Regions from separate parts of the Homo sapiens genome. Here all the other regions are linked to region 1. Evidence: fine-mapped expression QTL. A gene starts in region 1. Each other region holds a variant in brackets. All regions are shown on one strand. Distances are from middle to middle. Region 1 holds the start of CYTH1 (cytohesin 1). Region 2 overlaps CYTH1 (cytohesin 1). Region 3 overlaps CYTH1 (cytohesin 1). Region 4 overlaps CYTH1 (cytohesin 1).

What was found. PIP is the estimated chance that this variant, and not a neighbour inherited with it, causes the effect.
Region 2: its variant is the best candidate, but not a certain one, in a credible set for the expression of CYTH1 in monocytes after LPS (Fairfax 2014, PIP 0.62).
Region 3: its variant is the best candidate, but not a certain one, in a credible set for the expression of CYTH1 in whole blood (INTERVAL, PIP 0.61).
Region 4: its variant is the best candidate, but not a certain one, in a credible set for the expression of CYTH1 in cerebellar hemisphere (GTEx, PIP 0.57).

What each region holds. Positions count from the first base shown.
Region 1 is chr17:78,778,185-78,785,849 of GRCh38, forward strand. CYTH1 (cytohesin 1) reads right to left here and starts at 4,089. Exons shown (of 14, transcript NM_004762.6): 1 at 4,018-4,089. The coding sequence starts at 4,039. RefSeq lists an enhancer at 2,091-2,190, silencers at 3,209-3,608, 3,869-4,148, 4,189-4,348 and a cis regulatory region at 6,874-7,293.
Region 2 is chr17:78,685,348-78,693,012 of GRCh38, forward strand. CYTH1 (cytohesin 1) reads right to left here. Exons shown (of 14, transcript NM_004762.6): 11 at 7,070-7,146. Among named protein-coding and RNA genes, the nearest start is that of SCAT1, 57 kb to the left of the region's middle. The variant A/G (reference allele first, on the strand shown) is at 3,677.
Region 3 is chr17:78,693,235-78,699,861 of GRCh38, forward strand. CYTH1 (cytohesin 1) reads right to left here. Exons shown (of 14, transcript NM_004762.6): 8 at 5,586-5,734; 9 at 5,035-5,146; 10 at 2,773-2,775. It also overlaps the pseudogene RNU6-638P. Among named protein-coding and RNA genes, the nearest start is that of SCAT1, 64 kb to the left of the region's middle. The variant C/G (reference allele first, on the strand shown) is at 4,235.
Region 4 is chr17:78,667,219-78,674,883 of GRCh38, forward strand. It overlaps CYTH1 (cytohesin 1), which reads right to left. Exons shown (of 14, transcript NM_004762.6): 14 at 6,830-7,665. Among named protein-coding and RNA genes, the nearest start is that of SCAT1, 39 kb to the left of the region's middle. RefSeq lists enhancers at 1-286, 287-897, 898-1,507. The variant G/A (reference allele first, on the strand shown) is at 3,669.

The sequences.
Region 1 (7,665 bases):
AACCCCTACTCAGAAAGCTGAGGGAGAATCGCATGAACCCAGGAGGTGGAAGCTGCAGGGAGCTAAGACTGTGCCACCACACTCCAGCCTGGGTGACAGAACAAGACTGTCTCAAAAAAAAAAAAAAAAAAAAAAAGGGAAAAAAAATTAAGGTTTAAAAAGTTTATTTAGGGCCGGGCGTGGTGGCTCACGCCTGTAATCCCAGCACTTTGGGAGGCCAAGGCAGGTGGATCACTTGAGGTCAGGAGTTTAAGACCAGCCTGGCCAATATGGTGAAACCCCATTTCTACTAAAAACACAAAAATCAGCCGGGTGTGGTGGCAGGTGCCTGTAATCCCAGCTACTTGGGAGGCTGAGGCAGAAGAATCACTTGAACCCAGCAGGCAGAGGTTGCAGTGAACCAAGATTGCGTCACTGCATTCCAGCCTGGGCAACACAGTGAGACTCCATCTCAAAAAAAAAAAAAAAAAAAAAAAAGAAAGAAAAAGTTTAATTAGGCCTGGCACAGTGACTCAACCCAACACTTTCAGAGGCCAAGGCGGGAGGATGGTTTTAGACCAGCCTGCGCAACATAGTGAGACTCTGCAACTATTTAAAAAATAATAATAATAAAAAGTTTGTTTAAAAGAAAACAATGGAAGTTCTGAGGTGACGTCTGAACACGTCATGTTATATGCTTTATGAATCCATCACACACATTTCCTTTTACAATGTGGGATCTGGTCAAGGTAAATTCTCTGTGAAACCTATGAGGGAAATGGACAGTTCTGGAGACTAACACAAACCTTAAAGAACTTGGGAGTCTTATTCTTCATATGATCATCTTACACCATCAGGTACTTTTTGTGTGGTGACCCTCTGGGTGGGGAATCTTCAATCTTTTTAGTTCCTCCAAAATAAAAGGATGATATTTAAAACTGTAGAAAGGGGAACAGGCCAGGCGGGGTGGTTCATGCCTGTAATCCCAGCACTTTGGGAGGCTTAGGCAGGCAGATCACCTGAGGTCAAGAGTTTGAGACCAGCCTGGACAACACAGAGAAACCCTGTCTCTACTAAAAATACAAAATTAGCCAGGCGTGGTGGCGCATGCCTGTAATCCCAGCTACTCAGGAGGCTGAGGCAGGAGAATCGCTTGAAGCTGGGAGGCAGAGGTTGCAGTGAGCCGAGATTGCGCCATTGCACTCCAGCCTGGGCAACAAGAGTGAAACTCCATCTCAAAAAAAAAAAAAAAAAAAAAAAGAAAGGGGAAGAATAAACTTACAAACTTTCTCATCTTCGTGTGTGGCAGACAGAATAACAGCCCCTAAAGAAGTCCGGGTACTAATCCCCAGAACTTGTGAATAGGTTACCTTACATGGCAGAAGGGGAATTAAGGTAACAGATGGAATTAAGGTTGCTAATCCTTAGCCTTGATTATCCAGGTGGGTCCCACTATAATCACAAGGATCTTAATAAGAGGGAGGTAGGAGGTCGAGAGAAATGAGAAGATGCTACCTGCTGGCTTTGAAGATGGAAAGGGGACTATGAACCATGGAACACAGGTGGCCTCTAGAAGCTGGAAAAGGTAAGGAAATGGGTTCTCCCCTGAGCCTCCAGAAAGAACCAGCCTGTCCGACACCTTGGCTTTAGCCCAGTGAGACCTATTTTGGACTTCTGACAGCAGAACCCTAAAACAAATGTTATGTTGTTTTGAGCCACCAGGCTTGTGGTAATATAACAGGTATAGGAAACTAACACGCCCTGCTTCCACTTACCTCTTTCAAGTACAAGTTCATGTCATGCCTGGTGGCAAAGCAGTCACTGTATTAAAAGCAACCAGACCAATAGCTTCCTGCCCACGGCAGCAGGCAAGAACACAAGAGAGGCCACAAAAGCCTGGTAGGCAGGACACTGGGATCTGAGGGAAATTAAATGGCAAGAGGAGGCAGAGAAAAGAGCAGCAGGCAAAACTGCTGTCGGCTTCTCAGCAGTGGGCAGGAGTGAAATCTGGAGGGGCTGAACAATCTTTTGGGGCCAGCCAGTGGGTGATTTTTCTTTTAATCACAAAAGGAGGCTGGGAGCAGTGGCTCATGCCTGTAATCCCAACACTTTGGGAGGCCAAGATAGGAACTGGAGTTCACACCAGCCTAGGCAACATAGGGAGACCTCCCTCTCTACAAAAAGAAATAAAAATAATTAGCAGGGCGTGGTAGCCCAGGCCTGTAGTCCAGGTTACAGGAGGGGCTGAGAAGAGAGGTGAGAGGATTGCTTGAGCCAAGGAAGCAGAGCGTGCAGTGAGCTATGAGAGCGCCCCTGCACTCCAGCCTGCGCAAGAGAGCTAGACCCTGTCTCAAAAACACAACAAAACAAACAACAAAAAAATGCACAAGCTGCTTTTACTTGTTTACTTATAAGGTAACAAGTGGGCTGGGTGTGGTGGCTCAGGCCTGTAATCCCAACACTGTGCGAGGCAGAGGTGGGAGGACTGCTTGGGTCTAGGAGTTCAAGACCAGCCTGGGTAACATGGCAAGACCCCATCTTTTAAAAAAGTAAAAAATTAGGGCTGGGCGCGGTGGCTCATGCCTGTAATCCCAGCACTTTGGGAGGCCGAGGCGGGTGGATCACCTGAGGTCAGAAGTTCAAGACCAGCCTGGCCAACATGGCAAAACCCTGTCTCTACTAAAAATACAACAATTAGACAGGCGTGGTGGCACGCGCCTGTAGTCCCAGCTACTCAGGAGCCTGAGGCAGGAGAATCGCTCAGCTCACCCAGGAGGCCGAGGTTGCAGTGAGCCGAGATGGCGCCACTGCACTACAGCCTGGGCGACAGAGTGAGACTCCGTTTCAAAAATAAAATAAAATAAAATAAAATAATAAAATAAAATAAAATAAAAAATTAGCCGGGCATGGTGGCGTGCGTATGGTTCCAGCCACTCAAGAGGCTGACGTGAGCTACGATCACGCCACTGTGCTCCAGCCTGGGTGACAGAGCGAGATCTCGTCTCTTAAAAAAAAAAAAAAAAGAAAAATGTCCCATTAGTTATTAAACTAGAATTGGGTTCCATTTGGCCACAGAGTTCTGCTTTATTTGTACTTTGCTACCAAACCACAAAAGTTCACCACTTGTTCTATTTGCCATTCTTCCTTTTAATTCCTCATGAACAAACTTAATAAATTAACTACAGCATGTCAAACAACCTTTTGCAACCCTTGCAATTTCAAACTCTTGGAGGGAGGCACCCCTGGCCTGGGCCAGCAGCCTCAACGCGCGGGAGCGAAGGGAGCGGGACAGCGGCTCCGCTTGCCAAGTCCCCAGTCAGGGGAGGAGCGGCGTCCCCACCGCGGTGCCCCTCGGGCTCCACACCCGCGTCTCGGCAGGCGGCGACGCACCGGACCGGCGGCTACCGGGCCCAGACTCCCGCGGGCAGGGCCGTCCCGGAGCCCGCGCCTCGCCGGCGGCGCCGCTCCCCGTTCTCATTTCTGAACAAAGACGTGGACCGGGCACAACTCGCTGACGCCGAGAGCGGCCGGAAACTGCGGGGAACGCGGGCCCGGCCATCCGCGCGTCCGCCCCGAGCCCCGCAGAGGGGCGGCAGGGCCAGCGACCTCCACCCCTCGGCCCCCCGGGACCCGGACTGCGACCCCTGCCCCGGGGACCCCAGCGACCCCAACGACTCTCATCCCTCAGAGCCCCTGAGATCCTGCCCCGCGACCCCAACGACCCTCATTCCTCAGAGCTCGCGGCGACCCCTGGCCCCGCGAGACCGCGAGCCCGGCCTGTGACCCCCGCCCCAGCCACCCACATCCCTCAGCGCCGCCAGCGACCCCGGCCCCGGCGACCCTCATCCCTCAAAACCCCCTGCGACCCCCGCCCCGCGAGGGCCCCGCGCACCGCTCGCCCGCCGGTCGCCCCGGGCTCCGCGTCCCGCACCAGTGTCCCCGGGAAACGCCAGCCGCCGCAAGCGCTGCCGGACGGCCGGGCCCGGAGGGGACTGGGGGACAGCGAGGGGGAAGCGTCCGCCGCCGGGGCGCACTGACCGTAGCTGTCGTCCTCCTCCATGGTGCGGGAGCCGGGCTCCGCGCTCCGGCTCGCCGCTCGCGTCCCGCCGCGCCACCCGCGCCCCCGCTCGCCTCAGCCCGGCTCGGAGCCCCGCCCCCGGCGCCCCGCGCCCCGCGCCCCGCCCGCCCGCGCCTGCGCCTGCGCCCGCCCCCTGCCCCCGGCCCGAGGCCCCGCCCCTCGCCCGAGGCCCCGCCTTCCTCCCGCGCGCGCCGCACCCCGGGTACCCGGCCTCCTCCCGAGGCTCCGGCCTGCGCACGCGCGTCCACCCGAGGCTCCTCCCCTGCCCCCGCCTCTAGACCACGCCCCCGTCCCGAGACACACACACCCCCCCCCCTTCTCCCGGTCCGCCTCCTGGGGCCGAGCAGGTTTCGGTTTCTGAAGGGCGGTGCAAGTCCCCGGGGTGGCGGACTCGACCTGGCCTGCAGCCAGGCTACTGCACGAAAGCCCAAGGTCGTGTCCGGCCACTGAAGGGCAGGGTGGTCCTTGCTGACGCCAACCTGGAAGGTCAGACCCGGCCCCAGCTTGCCAGGGAGGGCCCGGTCCTTGGCGAAAGGCCACAAAAGCTATTTGAAGTCATTTACTCCTGCGTTCAGAACCTTTACATGCTGTATGTCCTAAGTTTACTGCTTCTACTTCTTTTTATTTGTCCTGAGTTTTACCTGGGTCAAGATTGAAAGGAGGGCACTTCAAGTCCCAGCGTTTTGGATTTTATTTATTTATTGGAGACGAGTTTCGCTCTTGTTGCCCAGGCTGGAGTGCAGTGGCCCGATCTCGGCTCACTGAAACCTCCGCCTCCCGGGTTCAAGCGATTGTCCTGCCTCAGCCTCCTGAGTAGCTGTGATTACAGGCATGTGCCACCAGGCCCGACTAATTGTATTTTTAGTAGAGACGGGGTTTCGCCATGTTGGCCAGGCTGGTCTCGAACTCCTGACCTCAAATAATCCGCCTGCCTCGGCCTCCCAAAGTGCTGGGATTACAGGTATGAGCCACCGCGCTCGGCCTTCTCTTTCTTTATGACAGAGGACAATCCCACTGCTGCAGAATGCCAGCACCAGAACCCCCCTTTCCCCCTGCAGTCACTTGTGGCTCCTGCACCCTACACAGAACACTCACTGAGAACTCCACAGAGATCCCTGGACTGCTGGGAATTTTTTGGACCAACCAAAAAACGGGAGTAAAAGCCACAGAACTCTTTCCTTGTGGGCCCACCTGTCCTGAGTTTTACTATTTTTCTTTTTCTTTTATTTATTTATTCATTTTGAGACAGAGTCTCACTCGCTGTGTTGCTCAGGCTAGAGTACGGTGGCACCATCATGACTCCCTGCAACCTCTGCTTCCCAGGCTCAAGCAGTTCTCCCACCTCAGCCTCCTGAGTAGCTGAGACTGCAGGCACCGGCCACCATACCTGGTTAATTTTTGTATTTTTTGTAGAGACGGAGGTTGCTAGGTTGCCCAGGCTGGTCTCGAACTCCTAGGCTCAAGTGATCCTTTCTCTTTGGTCTCCTTCCTTGGCCTCCCAAAGTACTGGAATTACAGGCGTGAGCCACCACGCCTGGCTGGATTCATGATCTTAACCTTCACTGACTTTACCAGATTGTCCAGTTTTACAGGTGACCTTAGAGAGTCACATTTTGGCCCTAACGTGTCCTTGGGCTTCGGCGTGTGAGGTCAGAGACCCAGCTGCATTTTGTTCCTCTTGGCCTAGACTTAGGACACTTTTAGAATTGACCCCACATTGACCTGGCAAATCTTCTCAAACCATCTGTCACATGGGCTAATGGAGCACTGAGCCTCTCCCCCAGTATTTGCCATCCTCTGTTTCACTCCCTACTTCACTTCTAACCCCAGACTCACCAGAAGGTTCAAGGTATCTTCGAGCTGGCTTTCTTCCCTTATCAGTATGCAAGTCCCAGACCACCTCAGCTCTTGCTCAAAGACCAGAACTCCAGAAGAAAAGCGATTCAGATGGCATGTTAATTCTTACTATCAGCACTCTAGACCTCTTAGCTGAACTCACCAACTGAATAGATTTGGAGAGGGAGGGATACTGGTATTACTGCTAATCACAGATTAGCAGAGAACATGACTGTTTACAAATTCTGTTCCCTTATATTGTTCCATTAGACTGGTGTTTTTCAGCTGGGTGAAGTGGTTCATGCCTATAACCCCAGTACTTTGGGAGGCCAAGCTAGGAAAACTGCTTCAGGGCAGGAGTTCAAGACCAGCGCGAGTAACATAGAGAGACCCTGTCTCTACAAAAAATTAAAAATTGTCGAGCATAGCGGCACACGCCTGTAGTCCTAGCCACTCTGGAAGCTGAAGTGGGAGGGATCCTCTGGGCCTGGGAAGTTGAGGCTTCAGTAAGCTATGATTGCACCACTGTGCTCCAGCCTGGGGGACAGAGTGAGACCCTGTTTCCAAAAAAAAAAAAAAGAACAGTGTTTTTCAAACAGCGGGTCATGACTCTTAATGGTTATGAAACAAATACTTATTAGATGAAAAGAAAATAGAATTTTTAAAAAATTGTAGTCTATCACACATAATACAGAGACAGTGTTTGTTCTGGTTGCAAATGAATGCATGCATGTGTCCACTGGGTAGGGCTATCCCTGACCATGGATGACTGTCAAAGAAACACAGAAGCTACTCCATTAGATCACATTCATGATCAGAGATTTTTTTTTTTTTTTTTGAGATAGGGTCTTACTGTGTCATCCAGGCTGGAGTGCAGTTGCACATCTCGGCTCACTGCAGCCTCCACGTAGCTGGGATTACCACCATGTGCCACCAAGCCCAGCTAATTTTTGTGTTTTTAGTAGAGACAGGGTTTCGCCATGTTGGCCAGGCTGGTCTTGACATCCTGACCTCAGGTGATCCGCCCACCTCTGCCTCTCAAAGCACTGGGATTACAGGCGTGAGCCACTGCGCCCAGCCAGAGAGGTCCTTTAGCTGTTATCTTTGCATGACATTTGGAAGCCGAGGCTAATAGACATCCAAATGCAGCCTACTTGCAAGCAGGAGTTAAGTCAGTTTCACTCTCGTATCTTGTATTTGTGCCCCCAGCCCTTGGAGCGTAATGAGAAGGAGCCGGCGGCAGGGAGACAGGAACCACAGGACTCCACTCCAGCTGTGGATTCTAACCCAGACCTCTTCCCCCACATCCACTAATTCTTCACAGAACCTTTAAACTGGGTGTGGGCTCTCTGCAAGTTTCGCTGTGGTTTCTAAGTCCTTAGTGGTTGATCCACTTGACAACTAATTTTTTTAAGTTGGTAGCTCCCTGCGGTATTTGACAGTTTTTGGTTTGGTTTTGTTTTTGAGACAGGGTCTCACTCTGTTGGCCAGGCTGGAGTGCAGTGGCTCATGGCTCACTGCAGACTCCACCTCCCAGACTCCATCGATCTTCCCACTTCAGCCTCCCAAGTAGCTGGGACTACAGTTGCACGCCACCACACCCAGCTAATATTTTATTTATTTATTTATTTTAGAGACAGGGTCTTTCCATGTTGTCCAGGCTGGTTGTGAAATCCTGGGCTCAAGTGATCCACCCACCTTAGTCTCCCAAAGTGCTAGGATTACAGGCATGAGCCTGCTCCTGGCCACCCTCTGGTATTTTCCACTGTTCC
Region 2 (7,665 bases), 93 kb before region 1:
TTTTATTATTTCACTTTTACATTGTCCAGGTTTATAACATTCATGGTACGTCCTGCAGCCACAATTTCTGGTTAATTAGTATTTGTTTTATATTTAAGCATATTTTAGTATTAGCTCTATATTTAAGTTTATTTAGCTATTACTTCTATATGAGTATATTTAGCTATTAGTTCTATACTTAAGTATATTTTGGTATTAGTTCCATACTTAAGTATATTTTCGTATTCTGAACTTAAGCATATTTTAGTATTAGTTGTATATTTAAGTATTAGTTCTGTATTTAAATGAATAGTTCAATGCTCACTACCAGTCTTTTACTTCCCAGGGCCTTTCTTGTGATTCATTCTCTTACGTGCTGGATGTTACTGTCAAGCAATTTTTTTTTCAAGAAGGTTCCAAAGTGCCGCATTTCACATGTTTTCTTCAGGAGAGTGCGGCCAGCTGTGCTTTACTTAAACAATAACGTGGCTGGATAAAGGGTCTTGGGTCATTCTTCTCTTCAAAACTGTGCAGACCTTGATACTTTAATTTCTGGGACTAAAAGCTGCTGGAGATGATCTGCTTTTTCCAACAGAACGACCAGACACTTGGCTCCAAGTTCAATGGTCTAAGGGGCCAGGCTTTGGAGCGACCCTTTCTGTAACAGTTTCCTGAAATACGGTGTCTTCTTTGATTTGCAGATTCAGGGCTTTTTCCTCTTTCTCAGGGAAATCACCTCATGCCACACTGTATCTTTGATTCTGCAGACACCAATTACTCTGGTATTATTGGGATCGTCTTCTGTTCTCTGCATCTGCTAGCTTTTCTCTCATTGTTTTAATACTTGTCTTTTTCAGATATAATCTCTGTGATTGGCTCAAGCGTTTAAGACATTATATTTATAGGACATGATTATATTTTCAGCTAATTTGTTCCACTCCTTAAAGTTTTAACTTACCTTTAAGAATAAATAAGTTATAATTCTATGATTATATATTAATGGTTGCACTGTAAGTATATGCTATTGCTTGGGTTCTCACTTGTTTGAAGACGGAAACCTTGCTTTTCTGGCCTTCCAGCTGGCTCTGGTAAATCTGTGAGTGACCCCTGGTTCTCCTCCTGTGAATCTCTGATCTGCTTGTGTCCCCCTAACCACTTACCCTGACCTGTGGTGGGCGGCCAGGTGTTCTGCATTCTAGCATATTATGCAGTCTCGTAGAGAATGGTGAGTGGTGGGAGAGCTCATCGAAGATACTCCCCGAGTTCTGGTCTTTCCTCTCGGATTGTAAGTATCCAACGTCAGGGTTTGCTCCATCTATCTGGGCAGCAGTCCCCAGCCTTTTTGGTACCAGGAACTGGTTTCATGGAAGACAATTTTTCCACGGACAAAGGCAGGGGAGGGAAGATGGTTCGGGATGATTCGAGCACATTACATTTTTTTAAGTTAATTAATTTATTTATTTTTATTTTGGGGGGCACAGTTTTGCTTTTGTTGCCCAGGCTGGAGTGCAATGGCGAGATCTTGGCTCACCGCAACCTCCGCCTCCTGGGTTCAAGCGATTCTCCTGCCACAGCCTCCCTGGTAGCTGGGATTACAGGCATGTGCCACCACACTTGGCTGATTTTTTATTTTTAGTAGAGACGGGGTTTCTCCATGTTGGTCAGGCTGGTCTCGAACTCCCAACCTCAGGTGATCTGCCCACCTTGGCCTCCCAAAGTGCTGGGATTACAGGAGTGAGCCACCGCGCCCAGCCTACATTACATTTATTGTACACTTTATTTCTATTGTTATTATACTGTAATATATAATGAAATAATTATACAACTCACCATGATGTAGAATCAATGGGAGCCCTGAGCTTGTTTTCCTGCAACTAGATAGTCCCATCTGGGGCTGATGGGAGACAGTGACACCCAACATGTGTTGCTTGTGTCCAGTCTACTCTGTAATCACTCTTTGGCTGCTGTCACTGCAGAAAACACTGCTTCACAAAGACAGGATGTTGGGCGTGGAAGCAGGCTTTCAGTGCTTTTGGGGCAATCTCAGGATATTCTGCCTCAACTTTAATCCAGAACATATGGAGATTTGAAGTTGTCTCAAACGTACTTTTAAGGCCACTGTCATTTGCGATCTCAAGCAGTTGATCTTCTTCTAGCATTGGCCAAGGTGATTCACCTGGCTTATTCTCAAATGGGTCACAGATCCATTCCTTTCCAGTTCAGGTTCTTTTGTGGTTGGGAAGTATCGCTCAAGCTCTTCTGAAAGCTGAGGCGCTGGGGCAAAGAAGGCCCTGGCTCCGTCTCTCACAATCTCTCTAATGTTTGAAACATGTCAGAAATCCCAGTGTTCACTCATCACCCCTGTAATTCCAGTTTGGCTTTGAAAGCAGCCACTTGATCTGCCGACTGGGACACACTTGTCACTCTCCCCTGAAGTGACAGATTGAGTTTGTGAGTAGGTTTAATCTGTCACACAAGTACACAAGTTTCCTGACCTATATTCTGTGTCACTGAAATGTGCTGCTAGTGGTGACTTTTTCTAGAAGAAATCTCTGAAGTGGCTGTTGCAACTCAGAAACTCTGGCCAGTGATGTGCCTTTAGAGAGCGTCTCACTCTGTGTATCACAGAAGCCGTGTGTGCTCTGCGTCCATCTCCTCCGAGGGCTGCATGAACAGACCTGAGTTAGGCCATGTACTTTAATGTGGTTGGTAATTTCAATCGCATCCTGCATAAATGTTGTTAAGTTCAGGTGACACTTTTTGGCTAGCCAGCACTTCTCTATGGATGACATACTGCATAGACTCACATTTAGAAGTGACCTCTTTGACCTGAGTAGTGAAACCAGAAAGCTGTCCAGTCACGGCAGCCGCTCCATCCATGCATATAACACCACAAAACAAAACAGTTCAGTTTCCCTGATATGTAATAATTCAAAGACTTGAATAGCAGCCGTGGTGTTGGTTGGCAACTAAAGCACACATAACATATCCTCATGAACATCCCCCTGAAAAATATGTCACAGAAGAACAAGCATTGTTGTCTTGTTGTCAACATCGGTAGACTCGTCAACCTGGATTGAGTACCAGAGTGACTCGTTAATCCTCTCTAACAATTGTGCCTCAATATCTGCTGCTGTTTCATCAATCTGCCTAGTTACGGTGCTGGCCGAAAGAGCAACATGTGCCACCTTTTGAACCACAGCCTCTCCTAAAAGCGCATGACAAATGTCCTTAGCAGCAGGCAGGATCAACTCTTCACCAACAGCCAGTCCTGGCTTTGGCAATGCGGTTAGACACGAAGAATGATGCTTTCAGCGCAGACATATTTGATGAAGTGGTGGCCTTCAATAATTGCTTCTGTTCTTGATGTTTACATTTTTTTCTTTTGAAAACTCCAAAGGCTTGTCTTTTGATGCAGGGTGCTTGGTCTCCATGCGGTGAGGCAGTTTTGAAGCTTTCATGGCTTTGTTGGGTAGTTGGTCACCACATATTCTACAAAGTGGGCTTGGCGAATGTGATCACCTGTTGAAATGAACCTAGAATTTGAGTAGAACTCTTGGCGTTTTCTTTACAATGCAGCTTTATTTTTGTTGGCAGTCTTGGCGTGTTCTGCTGTCTCATCAATGGGTCTCTCCCCCTTTTCAAAGAAGCTCTCCAGTGACGTTTGGTTTTTACTCATTTTGGCTAGGGTTGGTGG[A/G]TGGGCTTACCAAAACCATGGCTGAGACAAGTACACAGTGTGGGAAAGAGATGTGGATGGCAGTGGTAAATAAAATAACGGGCAGGCCATGCACGGACTGAAATAAGTGTTGGATTCTGACTTAAAGCCTGCCACCAGATACAGCTGTACAATTGAAGTACATCAGCTCACTTGCCACTATAAAGCCTGCCACCAGAGGCAGGCTAATTGTCACTTGCCACTCACTGATAGAGTTCTGATGAGTCTGCAAGCAACTGATGTATTATTATGGTCTCTGTGGAGTCAAACCTCTCTGCTAACATTCATCTGTACTTGCAGCTGCTCCCCAGCACTAGCATCACTGCCTCAGCTCCACCTCAGATCATCAGGCATTAGATTCTCAGGAGGAGTGCACAACCTAGATCTCTGGCCCATACAATTTACAATAGGGTTCGTGCTCCTATGAGAATCTAACGCCGCCACTGATCTGACAGGATGTGGAGCTCAGGAGGTGATGTGAGTGATGGGGAGCAGCTGGCTGTAAATACAGATGAAGCTTCCACCGCTCGCCTGCCACTCACCTCCCGCTGTGTGGCCTGGCTCGTAACAGGCCACAGACTGGTACCGTCCTATGGCCTGAGGTTGAGGACCCCTGTATTTGGGGATGGATATCATGCTCATGGGAGACCCTCCATGGACAGTCTTCCCCAGTGAATATACAGTCTTGAGCCTTTACTTATGTCTATAACGGCTGCTTTTTTCACTTTTCCCATTTCACCAATGTCCACCCAGCAGGGGATTTTACTACTCCTTGATCAGGGAGGAAAAAATAACAAGTCCTGTTCAGTTTGCCTCCTCCCAGACCTGAGAAACCAGCGAGACTGCCGGGTCTCCTCAAATCCTGGGCCGTGAGGTAGAAACCCTGCACACTGCTCCTGACTGCTGCCCCTGCCACCGCTGCTTCCGCTGCTGCCCAGGGCTGCAGTGCACTGAATTCGTTCTGCCCCTTCCCCTGCTTGGTTGCTATTTTTCCCTACTTATTTTTTTACTAGTCTTTTGCTCTGTTAGGTAATTCTGTGTGGAAGTTTCAATCTACCATCTTAATTCTGACAGCATCCTCTCTGTGTCTTAAGAAATGTATTCAGCACTTTGGAAGGCTGAGATGGGCGGATCACAAGATCAGGAGATCGAGACCATCCTGACTAACACAGTGAAACCCCGTCTCTACTAAAAATACAAAAAATTAGCTGGGCGTGGCAGCAGCGCCTGTAGTCCCAGCTACTCCGGAGGCCGAGGCAGGAGAATGGCGTGAGCCCGGGAGGCGGAGCTTGCAGTGAGCCGAGATCGTGCCACTGCACTCCAGCCTGGGCAACAGAGCGAGACTCCATCTCAAAAAAAAAAAAAAAAAAAAAAAAAAAAAAAAAAAAAAGAAATGTATTTACTGCTGGGTGCAGATCACCTGAGGTCAGGAGTTCAAGACCAGCCTGGCCAACATGGTGAAACCCCATCCCATCTCTACTTAAAAAACAGAAAACAAAACAAAAAAAAACGGATGTGGTGGCGCACGCCTCTAGTCCCAGCTACTCAGGAGGCTGAGATGGGAGAATCACTTGAACCCAGGAGGCAGAGGTTGCAGTGAGCTAAGATCACACCACCACTACACTCCAGCCTGGGAGACAGAGCGAGACTCCGTCTCAAAAAAAAAAAAGTATTTTTCTCTGTATTTCCATTGCTTGATAAAATGCTACACTTTGCTGAATAAATATTGCTGAATTAAGGATTAAGGTGACACCACTACGGTGGGCATCACGAAAAACCACAAGATTCTAGAATCTCGTAGCATTGCTATAGGATTGTCCAGGACTTAGAAGTACACCACTTAGATGCTTATGTATCATTTTGACCCAGAAAATAGCGAGACAAATTCAGACACGATGTTAAAGACATCGTTAGTGTAGGTGTCTTCAGAAAAAAGGCAAAATATAGGGCAGAAGGGTGAACAAAACAGAAAAAATTGTACCAAGATGTTCACAGTGGTACTTTGGGGGTGAAGCAGAAAGCAGCTTTCTTTTTATTATTTTGCAGATATTTGAAGTGTATTACTCTCATATGAAAAGACTATAACAACAGAAAAGCAAAGCCAGTGCAGAACTTGCAGGGCATGAGCTGAGCCCCTACAACATATGAAATCCCGGCCAGAATTCCCTTCACAGTGATTTACTATCCTCAGTCACCAAACCATCAGAAGCAGCGGCTCTTGCCTGCAGCCTGATGGGCTACGAAGTGCATTCCCTGGGTGAGAAGCTGCATGTGCATGATGTCCATGGGGATGGAGAACAACGCTAAGTGTTAGACACGACAGAAACCCATCTTCACACCTCACAGCAGAAAATGCCAAGGCGTGTACCTGTTTCTTGGTCCTAAATAAGTGACTGGTGAATATGGTCAGGATTTCAATGTTTTACTTAAGCCCCATTTTGCTCTAAACTGATTTTAAAAGATACTTCTGAGTCTTAATTTTCTCAGTGGGATCAATGACTTTTGCTCCATGAAGATACACTTGGAGAACAAAAGCAAAGCATTCTCAACTCAACGGCCTTGATTTACTTTAAGACAAAAGTTCGATGCCATGGGAGTATGCCCGCTTTGCCCTTACAATGACCAAGAAAGGTGGCAGAAATGAAAAAGCACCCCATCACCAGTCCGGTGAGCCACGGTCTCCACACCAAGTGCTAACTTGCCAGGGTTCTGGGTACCTTGCTTAGAGGGAGCTCTGAAAAGAGCTAATTTATGATTTTTACTTTCTTTGGCTATTATTACAAAAGAGATATACGTATATAAAACACAAATTTGCAGCTATAAGTCTCTCCCACTGAATAAAAACCAACAAAACTTCTTAAAACTCCAGATAATCTCAAATTGACTTTTCCCATTTCACTTCACTTCCTTTTCCCCCACTATATATTTTACCCCTTGGGCTGTTTCTTCTGAAATCACATTTCTGCTAACCCAGAATAGGTGAATTTTCTAAATCACGATTATTTCCTTTTTCTTTTCATCTCCCTTTCAATTAGGGCCACATACTCTTTCTCGGCAACCAATGCAAATTCATTCTTTCTAGCCCAGTTCCAAAACCCATTTCTAGTGCTCCCCCTCCTCCAGGCCAGGTATCTCCTGTCCCACCAGAACCGGGTGCCTGCTCTGAGCCCGTGCCCTTTAAGGCACGCACCTCTTCTCAGGGGTTCCCCATTCTGAGATTTACTTCAGTTCTTGCACTTTGCTTAAACTCTCCCCCATCCCCCACAGATACTGAAGGGCAAATCCAACGGTCTCCTCAACCATGTCTGATTAGAGACACTTGGAACCGGAGGCCTTGCCCATCCCTAGTCTGGAGGCCGACTAGCAGGTGCTCACCGTGGTATACTCAAAGTAGTAAAGGCAGTTGTCAGTCAGAATGAACCAGCGTCTCTTCCAAGTCTTTACCCTGCCACCTGCAGAGCAAAAAGAGATGCACGTTCGACAAGAGACAACCAGACAAGTGCAGGCTCCACGACACACACGACACCCTCTCTTCTCAGAGAGGGTTGGGGGAGAGGCATCAGGAGAACGTGGAGCCCACAACATTGACATCAGTAACAAGACACAGAGCTGAAACAGAAGCGTCTTTCACAAAGTGAAAGCCTGTGGGTACAAGCAGAGCAAGCGCATCTAGGTGACACCCGGAGATGGAATCGGGACGGCAGGATGAGCATGGGTTTGTGGCGAGAAAACCCGGGGCAATAATGACATACAATGCAAATTTGCCAGAGTCAGCAAAAAGCCTATGTGGTAGAAATTGCCAAAGAACAGAAAAAGAGGGAAGGGTCAGCACCTAGTGCAGGCTACTCTGCTACTGACAAGCAGCCCGGCACATAAGGAGTGTTTCACTGGAAGTGAAGGAAGGAGGAAGCAGGAGGGGAGATGCTGGGAGCCTTCAAATCCACACTTTCCCTGGAACACGAAGTAAATCC
Region 3 (6,627 bases), 85 kb before region 1:
CAAATACAGCCATGGCAAAACAAGCTCTGGCGGTGGTGGCTGGGAGGCTGGCAAGGGCCTCCCTTGGTTCTTTTTAGTATTTCTCAGCACAAAACACTGGGGTCATGGCTAGGCACAGGGGCTCACGTCTATAATCCCAGCACTCTGGGAGGTCAAGGTGGGTGGGTCGCTTGAGGTCAGGAGTTCAAGACCAGCCGGCCAACATGGTGAATCCCCATCTCTACTAAAAGTATAAAAATTAGCCAGGGGTGGTGGCACATGCCTATAGTTCCAGCTACTCAGGAGGCTGAAGCATGAGAGTCACTTGAACTGGGAGGTGGAGGTTGCAGTGAGCCAAGATTGCACCACTGCACTCCCGCCTGGGTGACACAGGGAGACTCCCTCTCAAAAAAAAAGAAAAAAAAAAGAAAAAAAAAAAAGTTGGGGTTGGGGCCGTGAAGTTATGCTGAGACAGACATGAAGGAAGGAAAAATTTCCCCAAGCCTATCTGAATGAAGCTACACCTGCTGTCAAATCGGGACCACAGGCTTTCTCTTCCTCCACCTCTCTCCCATCAAGGGAACATTTTCTGAACATGAACCACTCAAAACTTATCCCTAAGGCCTTGACCTGTGAAGCTATGCATGGCATTCTAGAAACACTTCTTGTGCCTGCTCTTTTGCTAAGACTTAACCTACAGACAATACCGCTTCTCCAATCTTCCTAAATAGCAAGGATCATGGGGCATAAATCTCATACCTCCGATCATGCTTTCTCTCTTGCCCTCATCACAAATAGCTGAGCAAAGAGGAGAATGGTTTTACAGGGATTATTCTAACTGCCAGGACCTGCCTGCATGCTCACACCAGAGAAACCTAAGGGGAGTATGCAAATAATGTTATGAAAAGAAAATGTCCAGCGTAGGTCCTGGCAGACAAGTAAAAGGACCACTGGACTTTCAGGCCAGTTTTTAGCACCCTGCTTGGATGCTGAACCCTAGGCGGGCTTACGTGACTGATCATTAATTGCCAAGATTCCAAATGACACAGATCTAGGTTATGCGAGGGAATTTGCTGTAAGCAAGCACGTGCCCTCCACCTGCCCATCCTGTGCTATATCAAGCAAATTGAGACTCTCCCTCCAGTAACTTCTAAGTTTCATGTGAGCCCTTGCCACTGGTCCCTAAAGGTTAGATGGCATGAATTAAGAGAAAACCATAAATGGATACTATGACATGCATGTGGAAAACAGGAAAGCCCGGGCAGAATTAAATAAGGAGGATAAAGAAGGCAAGGACTATATTCAGGATTGAAGCCAATTTGTTCTTAAAAAGGAACCCCCTCCACCAATTCAGAGTCTGAGAACTTTGGTCTTCCAGCCTGGCGGGCCATTGGTTGCCCACGGAGGCTCGGCACAAAGGGAACATCAACCCATGCTGACCTCCCATGCGCTCCATCACAGGACACTACCCGGGGAACCCTTCGGACATAGGAGATCATGGAAAAAGCGAGTCAGATGCTAAAAGAAACAAGATGGAAAGAAATCAAGGAGAAAAAGCAAAGCCAGAAGAAATTCTCTGCCTGATTACAAAAGCTTGGTTATTATGCCTGGACAATTTGTTGCATTACAGAGACCTCTACCATAAAGCATCACTGTGGGCCCACGGGGAACATTTCCACGTGGAAAGAAAAGCAGACATGAAACAAGCAGACAGATCAATGTGCGCCTAGGACAGTCCCTGTGGAACTCACAGGACCACCTCCCACTGCACGGCTCCTCAGGCCTCCTGTGACCTCCCCGAGACATCAAGGCCGGATGCCATCTTCCCCTACAGTTGAGAACAACCTGACAAGTCCCTGAAGCATCTCAGTAACTGTGCGTGTTTGGGGTTGTTCTTTTTAAGTGTAGCTACTGCTCAGGGAATGCTTAGGCACAAACCTGAGGGGTCTTGGGCTAAGAAAATATGTTTCCCCAAAAAAACCAGCAAATGGAGAGGAGACACCAAAACCATAACCAGGAGACCGATTCGGGGCTTTAACGAGGACTCGCTGAAAAAGCGAGGGAGCAAAACAAAACATAACAACAGAGCCGAGGCTGTTAATACCCTTCTCTGATCCCCAGGAAACTAAACACGAGGACTTCAGGGAGGGTTTTTTGGTTTGGACTTGTTTTTTTCACCTTCACTCGGTATCATTTTGAGTTTAGGAAATACCATTTCCCCTTTTCGTGCAAAGGCAAATGTCTTAAGTATCATCTAATTTAGTTCTTTCCCTAGTTTGCTTTTCCATCATGGTAAATCAGAAGCTTTCCATAGCTTTGGGAAGTCAAGACTTTGTTCTCTCTGGAGTAAGTCTCAGCTTGAAAAAAGAAGAAAAAAGAAAGACTTCCTTCTCTTCTTTCTCCTCTTCCCCACGTCAGAGATTAACTTTCAATCAGGCTGATTAATGGACGTCAAATTGAATATCAAACATAGCGCATGTCTTAGCCAATAATTCCAAGTGAAAATGTCATGGAAACTTCCTCTGCTTTTACAAACCCACTCTTAGTATGTTTTCTTGCATTACTGCATTCAGTAATGAATATAACATATACTCCTCCAAAAAAGAAAAACGAAAATTGCTCCAAACCCCTGATCCTGACCAGTTCCCTAGGGACTGTACAATAAGTTAGAAGCAGCATTAACACTACCACCGGCAATTAAAAAACAAAATAACCAAAAATAACGAAATCAGAAAATGCTGCAGTAATGACAGTGGCCTAGCAGAGCGAGCGAGCAGGCTGAGGGTTACATACCTCCTGGAGTTTGGGGCAAGGAAAAGGAGAGCCAAAATCATGGAAACATACAAATGAGGGAGAAAAGAAAATTAAAACAAAGAAATTAAACCCGATTCCTTAATCTTAAAGTGCAATGTATCAGTCACATTCATGCCTGCCTGGGGAGAGAGCTGAACTAAAAACACTCAACGGGCAAATGATCCCACTACTGTCTGGCACGTGAACGAGGGGCTCTTACATGCCACGTTCCACCTCATCAAGGCAAGATTTGAGGCACTACTGGAAACCTGGCCCCAAAGATGCCACAAATCGGCTTTTACAAAGCCAATGTTTACTAGTATATCCAGAATCAGAGCAAAGAAAGCTAAGGTTATTTCAGGGAAAATTAAATGTCTTTCTTGAGATGGCTGTCACTTTTTAAAGTGTGTGTAAGAATGCACACACATATACCCATGAGTACACATGTACTGATGTGTATACACAAGAATACACATTCTTATGGCTATATGCATACACAGACATATACACACAGCTACAGACGGCTGGAAGCCCTGCCTTCTGCAGCACATAAACACAAAGAGTGATACTAAGTGTGCTACAATGAAAACACAATATTCAGAGTCTAGAAGGATTTGATGGAGGTTTAGAAAAAGTAATGCAATGAGCTAAAACTGAGTCCCACACTTGGTTAAATTTTCTCTTTTTTAAAATACGAGATGCCTCATGAATTTGCATGTCATCCTGGTCTAAGAACCAAGATAATCTTTGTACTGTTCTAATTTTAGTATCTGGGCTGTCAAAGCTAACACTTAGTATTAGCATTTAAACAAATCTCGCTGTAGGGGGAAGTAAATCCAAACTTGAACACACTTTAAACGTTTCCAGTAGGTTTCCTTTCAACTCCATCCACTTGGCAATAGGAATGTGGAAGGGAAGGCTGCCTATGGGGTTAGTAATTTTAGAGCCTTAACTTCAAAGATTCTGGGGGCTTAAAGATATATAAAATGATGGCCAATTCAAGAGATATTTAAAACTGATCGGTGAAGTGGTGCTGTAAGGGGAATTTATGAATTAAGTCATTATGTATAAGCACAAGGACTTGGGATATGACTTTAAAAGGAAATATAAAGTCTACTGCTATCTGACCTAGTCAGAAATAAAGGATTCCATTTTAGCCTTCCCAGATGTGTCAGTAATGACCAAGAGAGTACTGACTTCTAATCACTGGGGCAAGCAGTTGGGCTGGTATAGGACGGAACAGCCCCTGCTAATGTGAGAACCCAACTCATCAAAGGCTAAAGCAGAAGGCAACAGAGGAAAGTACCCTGCTAGTGTCCAAAAAAAAAAAAAAAAAAAGGACATCATTATGTCCAGAGAGTCTAGAGCTCTATGTTCTGAAACCATTAATAAAGTAAACACATGTGGACATGAATGTGTATGAAAACCCTACTAAAGTCTTTCCTATTGATTACCCTGTCAC[C/G]TTCACGGCAAGGCATGACCACAAATCTCAGCAATACAAGCTCATCACTTCTGGCAAAGGGAAGAGAAATGCATTTTCAGCTTTTCTAAATGAACAAAATAATTAATGTGGCTGATTCAGATTGAAAAGGAGGGGAAAAAAAAAAGAAAAAAAAAAAACCACTGCCCAAGAATGAGTAAGAGTGCTGTGGATTGAGCTGCAGCCAAGGGCTCTAGGCTTGCCATGCACACTGCCTGTGGGGGAGCCAGATGCAGAAGGAAGTGACGATGCACTGGGGTGGGGGCAGGAGCGCCAGGTACAAATCTGTGGGATGGGAAGTAGAAAGATGGACAAGGTCGGCCACCCTCCCAGTGGTTATGGGGACAGGGAAGGCAAACGGACCAGGTGCTCAGGGAACTGCCTTGAAACAAAACCTGGTCAACCAATTCAAGGGTAAAAATGTGGAGCACAGACACATGTGGGCAATATTTATGGTGGAGTAAGTCTGTCCCCAGTAGTCTCTGTGTCCCATGGGGGCAATGACTATGAAGTCACTTCCCTTTTGGAAGCCGACCTTTGTTAGAACAGAACTCATACCAAAGTCTCTCTGGAGTCCTCTATAAGCCACCCCCTTTCCTACATGGTGCGTGTGTGTCCATGAATGTGTGTGAACATGCATGCGCGTGCACACACACGCACGCGCACACATGCACACGCACAAACACGCACACGCGCACACACGCACGCACGCACACACGCACACACACCGCCTTTCTTCCTAAGTCTCAGCTTTAGGAGCCCTGACTCAGAGGTGCGCTTACCGAGTTTCAATAGCCAGCCTTCTCGGTCTGGATTGAAGAAAGTGTGAGTGAGGTCATTCCCGTCGTCTTCTGGGATTTTAAAGGGTTCATTTTTTATGCTCTCATAGAGATTCTGGGATAAAAGATGACAATTTATGTCTCTGATTCTAGAAATATTTTTTCCTCCTCCCCTTTCTCTTCATTCATTCCACAAGCATTCATGTGCCTATAGTAAGCCAAGCCTGCTAGATGCTGAGACTAGAAGATTATGACCATTTCTGCTTTCAGGCAGCTCACAGTGACAAAATAAATAAGCCTTCCCAATTAGGAAAATAAAGAAGCAGCCTGACTTCTATTCAAGCTTTTAGTTTCATGTTTACAAACCACTGTCCCCTCCCTGATTCCCTAGCTGGGCCTTACTACCACTTTCTTAATGAAATTCACATGGTTAAACAAATTAAAAGAGGAGACCCTTGATAAATTGTATGTTTTTTCTTCCTTCCTACAAAAGACGATCCTGTTCCCAGTGAACTCTTTCTTGACTTGAATGAAGACCATTCTTCCTTGCTTACCCGGAGGAGCTCCTCCGGCAGGTCTCCCCCATCATTGATGCCTCGGTTCATGGCAATGAACCTCTCCACAGTGGGCTTATCTTTGACATTGGGGTTGTGCAGACTGGTGTTCAACATGATGATGGCAAAGGAGAGGACGTAACAAGTATCTAAAGATGAGAGAAAAGCAAAGGGGAGCCGTTGCATGCTCAGATGTTCAGAAACATCCCACCCGCAAGAGCAAGAGTGGTATCAGATGAAATCAGGAATAAAAAACCATGTTCTCGGCCAGATGCAGTGGCTTACACCTGTAATCCCTGCACTTTGGGAGGCCAAGGCAGGCAGATCATGAGGTCAGGAGTTCAAGCCTAGCCTGACCCACATGGTGAAAACCCGTCTCTACTAAAATACAAAAATTAGCCAGGCGTGGCTGCACGCGCCTGTAATCCCAGCAACTTGGGAGGCCGAGGCAGGAGAATTGCTTGAACCTGGGAGGCAGAGCTTGCAGTGAGCCGAGATAGCGCCACTGCACTCCAGCCTGGGCGACAGAGTGAGACTCCATCTCAGAAAAAAAAAAAAAAACATGTTCTCAAAAGAATGAGATGAATCCACATGTACGGGTACACTCCAGGGCACACTGCTGTCTGAAAGGAGCAAGGCACGAAAAAGTATATAAAGTATTCAAGACTTAAAGCTGTTTATTTTTTCAGATTGGAAAGGAGAATACACACACTGTAGAAACTCTGAAAAACACAATGTGTTTAAAACAAAATGACCTGTAATGACCCATAATCCCACTATCTAGCAATAATTTATTTTGCTTTATTTCCTCTACGTAAATATGACTATGTATAACTCACCACATATTTATCTCACAGATATATACTGTAACAAAACTGGAAACAAACAAATACATACACATGCTTTTTTGCTAATCTTAATATCATTCTCCTATGTCAATAAAAATTCTTTGTAACAATATGGGTTTCTTTAGTTTTTGTTTTGAGACAGGGTCTCACTCTGTCACCCAGGCTTGGAGTGCTGTGGTGCAATCATAGCTCAC
Region 4 (7,665 bases), 110 kb before region 1:
TGGGAATTATGGGAGCTACAAGATGCGTTTGGGTGTGGACACAGAGCACAGCCAAGAGCAGGTGTCCCTGAGAACCCAAACATCCTGGGGAGGCCCCGAGCACTGGGGCTCCCTGCCCCACCCAGGGCAGGACGTGAGCAGGACCTTTTGACATGGAGGCAGAGAAACACTTCCCAAGAACCTCAGAGGGTGGGCTTGGGAGGGGTGGCCAAAGCTCCTCCCCCCAGGCCACCGCTTCATGCGTGGAGTTTGTATCCTGCAGCTTTGCCAAATCCACTTATTACCTCCCCGTTTTTTTGTGTGTGTGTAGAATCTTTAGGGTTTTACATATATATATGTGTGTGTGGGGGGTGTGTGTGTGGGGGTGTGTGTGTGTATATATGTGTGTGTGTGTGTGTGTGTGTGTGTGTGTGTGTATATGTAAAATCATGGCATGGCAAACAGAGATCATTTTACTTTTTCCTTTCCAACTTGGAGACCTTCTTTTTCTTGCCTAATTGCCCTGGCTAGAACATCCAGGACCATGTTGAGGAGAAGTGGCAAAAGCAGGCATCCTTGTCTTGATCCTGATCTTAGAGGAAAAGCTTCCAATCTCTCTCCGTTGAGTATGAGGTTGGCTGTGGTGTTTTCATAGATGGCCTTGTACTGTGACAGGTCCTCCACCAGGTTACTTAAGGGCATATGTCTGCTGCCTGAACCCTGAAGGCCACATGGTGAGTCCACGCCACGGTGCCCAGCCAAGGAGTAGGTGTCCCTGAGAACCCACACAGCCCAGAGAGGATCTGAGAACCCGCCAAGGAAAAGTCCCATGGCACACACACACAGTAGGCAAAGAGCCAGAAAATCAGCGTAAAAGCAGCCTAGAGATGGGGGCGGCGTGGATCTCTCGAGCTGTCCTGCTGCTGTCCGGCAGTGCCCTGTGTGCGGGTCCCCATCAACTCTGCTACTCACCAGGCTGGACTTGCCCCAGTCCTTCTTTGGGGCCTGGGAAGGAGGGGACGATACTGTCTCAAGTGTGTCCCGCAGTAGGCCTTGCTTGTGTTGAAAGGGTTCCTTCTGCGCCTGCCCCGTTGGGTGTATTTCCTGGTGGAGTTTCATTTCGTCCAATGCTTTTCCTGCATCGATGGAGATGATCACCCCGTTTTCTCCTTCATTCTGTTAACGGTGTAGATCACACTGGTAGATGTTTGTGGGTTTGTGGCAGGCCAGGCTCACTAACGCAGGCCTCCATAACAACTGTTTCAGCACTGACCACGTGGTGAAGTTAAATATTAAAAGCCGGCCGGGCACGGTGGCTCACGCCTGTAATCCTAGCACTTAGAAGGCCGAGGCGGGCGGTTCACGAGGTCAAGAGATCGAGACCACCCTGGCCAACATGCTGAAACCCCGTCTGTACTAAAAATACAAAAATTAGCTGGGCATGGTGCCACGTACCTGTATTCCCAGCTACTTGGGAGGCTGAGGCAGGAGAATCACTTGAACCCGGGAGGTGGAGGTTGCAGTGAGCCAAGATCATGCCACTGCGCTCCAGCCTGGCGACAGAGTGAGACTCCATCTCAAAAAAAATTAAAACAAAAATAAAAGCTGAGAGAGCTGGCCCCCTTATACAAAGGCTGGGATGTAACAAAAGCCTGCCAAGAGTTTTGCCCAGGCCTTTCCTGGGCCTTAAAGCATGAAAAATAACAAAGGAATTCTTAACATGACCCGTTTAGGACTAAACAAGTTTTACTGAGGCCATGAACCACAAGCCCTTCCCCAGGTGGACCATTGGGAAGCCACATGTGACCAGTAGGTGGTCACTCATCTTTCTGCAGAGCTCCCAATGTGACCAGCCAGCTCCCCACCTGCCGGCCATTATAAGAGTCATCCTCTTCTTGACACCTCCAGAAGAGAACCTGGATTTCCAGCCCAAGTCTGTCCTTGTCGGCTGCCCAGGCCCAACACTTAGGACTCATCCTGATTTCTCCTTCTCCCTCCATTTCTACCTCCAAGTTCTGCTGCCCCTCCCTCGAAGGCACATCATGAATTTTTAATTGTCCCCTACACCTCTCTCACGGTTGTCCCAGTACAATCCCCATCACCCCCAACTGAGTCATGTCACAGCCTCGTGCTGGCACTGTCCTCCCCCAACAATTCTCCCTCCAGCAGCCAGAGTCCCTCTCCAGCCCCCAAGCTCCACGCCACCTCAGACGTCCCCTACCATGGCCCTGGTCCCGCTCCATCTGGCCCCTGCTGACCTCTCCTCTGCATCCCCTGCCACCCCAGGCCTTAGCCAGCCCATCCCAGCAATTCCTTCAGGATCCCTCCACCCCACCACTAGCTACCCTACTCTAAGCGGCGCCCCGGGCCCTTGCCTGGTGGCCTCCTCTTCAGCTCAGCAACCTCTTCTCAGTGGGGCCTTCCCTCATCAGCCCGTTCAAGTTACCTCCTCCGCTTGCTCTTTCCAATAGCCGCCCACCTGTTTGCTCCTGGGGTTAGCCCCCCACACCCCGGGATCACTTCACTCAATTTTCTCATGTCTGCTCTACCCAGACTCTGAGCGCCAGACACGGGTTCTCACTGCTCCCAGTCTCCACCTTTGGCGGCCACAGCCTTTCTGCCGACCTAGCATCCATTCTCCACCCTCTGCTTGCCGGCGTCCGGCCCACGGTACCCCAACTGTGTCTGCAGGATGTGTGCCCAGCCCCAGTGAGGCATCAAATGGGCCTAAGCGGAGGATTGGCTGAGAGGTGGAGACGAGACCCAGGGTGATGCTGAAACGTAAGGACACGTCTGCAGGGAATCCGGGGAAAGACACTTCCTCCTTGATGAAGGGAGGCAAGCATGGGGGGCCCTGGCTGCCCCTCGCTCCCTGCTCCTCCTTCTGAGTGCCACTGTGTGAGGATATGGTATCCCCTCCTTCTAACTGTGCCACGACCGGGTCAATATGAGTGTTCCAGGAGAGCGGAGGAGGAGGAAAGCTCCGGGTTACATCCCAGGGCAGCCGAACAACCTGGAGCGCACATTTGGGACTTCCTGTTCTTATTTGTGTCCTCATGAGTCATGTCCCCACTAGGTGAGCTCTCTGTGACGTGCAGCCTCACGCGCACTGACAGGCATGAAGCCCAGCGCTGGGCGCATGGGACCTGCTCCATCAGGTTAGAAGCAGGGAACAAACGCCTCACGGCTCCTGCTCCCAACACAACCATGGAGACAGGCACGTCCGCATAAGCCATCCCAGAACCGAGTGGACTCACTGCTCAGGAGCACGAGGAGGCCCTTCAGCCTGGGGAAAAAGCTGGGCCAATCTGGACGGCGCAAGGCTTCGAAGAATGAGAAGGTTTTGCACAAACAGGCTGGCAGAGGAGATGGCAAAAGGAAGTCTCATGAGCAAAGCTATTAGCTATTAAACGGTGGCTGTGGAGCAAGAGCTTGGGACACAGGGCAGGGAGGGCGCAGTTAAGGATAGAAACAGCTAGAGATAAGGCGAACAGAGCCTGGTGGAGAAGGCCTTGAGCATCATGCAGATTCACGTTCTCTTCTGCAAGCAAAGGGACAGGTTCTGTTTGCTTGTTTTACTAAATGGAGGAATGACATGATCAGTAGATGAAAATTCCACAGCCGCATCAATCACGGAGTAGAAGATGGCAAAGCCTAGAGGTCCGCAGACCAGTGGGGAAGCCACCCCC[G/A]CGGGCCAGGCCTGTGATGAAGGTCTTGGGGCGGCGACAGTGGCTGGAGGAGCCACTCCAGAGGTCCACAGGGAGGGCTTGGGAATGCCTGGGTGTAGGGAGAGAGGGGGAGACACATGAGAAAGGGCTCCAAGCCTACACAGGCTCTCTGAGGGTGGCAGCAGAGTCCCCAGGACAAGGGGCAGTCTTGGGGCTATCAGCTGTGGACAGGCTGAGCTGGGGAGGCCCGGCAGCCACTCTGGTGGAGACGTCCCACAAGCAGTCAGAGGTGGAAAGGGGAGCCTGGAACGGGCCGGAATTGCACAGGCACACATAGGGGCCCACAGCGGGTAGCAGCAGGGTCAGTCGCGGGACTGATTATCTGTCAAGGAAGAGGGCTTAGGAACACTGGGGGCTAGAATCCTGGGGGATGTCCAGCAGCTGGCGGGTGGGCAGAGAGGAGAGGCCAGGGAAAGAACGCACAGGGAGCTGTCAGAGAGGTAGGAGAGCCCAGGTAGACTAATCCACCAGAGCCAAGAGGAGAGAGGAGGGGGACCCCTGGCTGAGGAGTGAACGAAAGTGAGGACATAGATGCAACGAGGAACTGTCGGAGTCCCTGTTAGCAATGCAAAATGTTTGTTCCCTGGTGTCACAAGGAAAAATTAGCATTCAGACAAAAAGTTCTCTCAGCGAGGCAATTTTTACTTTCTGCAGAAAGGGTGTCCCTTGCAGATGGAACAATGGGGAGGGCACACACAGAATAAAGAGACGCCAGAATATCCATTCTATATGCATGAGGCCTCTATTGCTGTGTCCTGTCTCCATTGGCTGGAGCCGGACCTCACAATCTAAATTAAAACCCGATTGGCTAATAATTTATTCTCAAATAAGGAAGGAGCATAGGCTGTGAGCTGGAACATGCCTATGAGCACGTGAGCACAGATATCTTGGTTAAGGTACAAGGACATGGAATGTACTACGTGCCTTGAGCATGTCTAACAGCTACCTAGGATAGGGCTTAACAAAGAGTTATTAGCACAAAGCAAGGAGGCTTGAAGGAAGTTAGTCTTTAAAAGAAACTATTATTTCTAACACTTATGATTTATTCTTTAATAAGAAGGGAAACTTTGAAGAGGAAACTTTTTACTTTCTACAGTCCTGCAACCACACAAACAACTGCAGAGAAAGGCAGCAGCAGCAGGCCTCCTAACAGCCAAGAGGCGGAAGCAACCCAAACGCCCATAGATGAATGAATAACAACGTGGTCTCCATACGATGAATGTTATCTGGGCATAAAGGGGAATGAGGCTCTGACACACGCTACAGGGATGAGTCGTGTAAACGTAACGCTAAGTGAAAGAAGCCAAACGCGAAGGCCCATGTAGTGTATGATTCCATTTGTATGAAATGCCCAGAAGAGGCAAGTGCATAGACAGAACCATTAGGACTGCCCGGGACCAGGGGAAGAGGAGGAGAGGCTGCTGATGAGTAGACAGGGTGTGCTTTGGGGTGATGAACTGTTCTCAAATGGATTTTATTGGCGTTTTAATAACTTCGTGGATGTATTACTATTGCAGGATTTTTCCTTAGTTCAGCTAAACACCTCTTAAAGGTCCTACCTTTTCATACTGTAACAATGGCAGTTACATTTCAACATGAGTTTTGGAGGGAACAGATATTCACACTGTAGCTTTCTGCCACTGGTTCCCCCACACTCGCCAGTCTCAGTACAAAACGCATTCATTCCATCCCGACTGCCCCAAAAGTCCTAACTTGCTCCAGCACCAATTCAAAAGTCCAAAGTCCAGAGTCTCCTCTAGATCAGATATGAGTGAGACTCAAGGAACAATTCATCCTGAGGCAAATCCCCTCCAGCTGAGAGCCTCGAAATTTAACAAGTTATGCACTTCCAAAATACACTGGGGGACAGGCATGAGATAGACATTCCCATTCCAAAAGGGAAAAAAGGGCAAGAAGGAAAGAATAACCAATCCCAAGTAAGTCTGAAACCCAATAGGGCAGACATTAAATCTTAAGACTCCAGAATGATCTCTGACTCATCTTAATGTGATCCCCCAAGGCCAGGAGCAGCCCCACCCTGTGCTGGGTTCTGCCCATGCCGCAGCTGTCACAGGATGGCATCTAGTGCCTACATACAGCTCTCCCGGCTGGGGCGGCAAGCTGGTGGTCCCACAGTTCTGGAGCCTTGGGAGTGGCCCCGTTCCCATGGCTCAGCTAGGCATTATGAAGTCATGTTACCAGCCAATAAATGTAATCTCTCTTCTTTCCTATCTGGATGCCTTTCATTTCTTGCCTAATTGCCCTGACTAGAACCTCCAGTACAATGCTGAATAGAAGTGGTAAGAGTGGACATCTCTGTCTTGTTCCTGAGCTTAGGGAGTTTTCAAATGAGATGGGCGTTTCTGTGGTTTGAGGGAAAGAAATTAATGGGGAAAGAAACTGGGGATATGTATAAGACAAAGGATAATTGACAGAGATGGATCCAGGGGAGACAGGAAAAAAGCAGGCCACTTCTTCTGGCGATGGGAGGGAACAAAAACAACTCTGACTGATGTGGAAAGGTAGGAATGCTGCCCTTCACACCTAATGGTCGTCTCTTCTCAGTAAAGTGGGGCAGTCACCTGGGGAATGGTCAGGGTAGACTGGGGGCTTGAAGCAAGGAGGAAACATCAGGCATGACTGCTGCTGTGTGGAAGAACGCGGACCAGCCCGTGGAGATGGACCCACAGAAGGGGCCAGCCTGGTGCTTTGCTGTCTCTCTGTTCGGTGCTGGTTCACCAAGCGCCTTCCCCTGCTTCTGGGTTCTAGCCCACCTGAGACTTTTCCCTGTTTATTCCCTGGCATTATGAAGTCATCTCTGGAAACTGAAATCATACTAAAAATGTATTATATTGACTGAAGGCATATTTCTTGATCTTAATTTAAAACTGATGTTTCACGTTTCTTCTAAAAAAGTGGGGGCGGTGCAAAGACTAAGTTACTTATCTTTTCTGACTCTGCTCTTCTTAACAGAAGACAGAACCCTCCTCCCACTTTCAAGGTGTTACAACTGAACTCAAGGTGCAGCTGGAGTAACACCCTCCTGCACAAGTGTCCGGTCAGCACCCCTTTCCCACCTCGAGGGCCCCGCCTGAGCCCAGAGACACCGCGAACAACAAAGATGGCTTGGGCAGAGTTGGAGTTTATTTGCTGCAGTTCCTTGGCGCTAGTTTACAAGGCAAAAACAAACAAACAAAAACAATTAGAATAATTATTTCTTAAAAACCCTGTCAACAACTTTCAGTCATTTCTTTATATTTTTGTATTTTGACAAAACTTCTTTTAAACAAATACAAAATAATCTAAAAGGAGAAAAACTATACATAGATTATTTACACCTCTGATAAATAGACTAATACTGACCCAGGTGCCTCTCTGTCTAGGAAACACTTGAGAACCAGGCCAGGGCCCGGGCCAGCTGGACAGGCTCCAGCACCGGCCCAAACACGCCCAGACCTCGGCAGGCACCACCTGGTTCTCCCACCCAGAAAGTTCAGGTTTCCAGCCTGGACCCTCTTCTGTCACCCTCACAAGCTCTGGCACAAAAGTGCCTAAAGCCATTCCCTCCAGGTAGGATCTACACAAAGTGGCGGGGAGGGAGGTGACAGACTGTCCCCCTCTATTCCTCCCACCACTCCTCTGCAAAAGCTATTTCCAGAGATGCTCGCCAACCCTAAAGGATCAGAGGAGCCGTGGCGACGCGGCCCTGTGAAAACCCGCAGCTCCTCCACCTGCCTCCTCAGGGCTGCGCCCTGCACCGCCCTGGTCCAGGGTCCTGTGGAGGGGCGGGGCGAGACGGCCAGACAGCCAGCCACCTGCTCTGCCTGGACTGGCATGCTGGCCCTGGCGGAGTGGCAGGAGCTGCCCTGAGAGTCCCTGAGAGAACGGCAGGAAAATGCTGCGTGTCACGGCTCCCTTCATACTGTAATGAGGAGGGGCAGGGCCAGCTCACACAGCG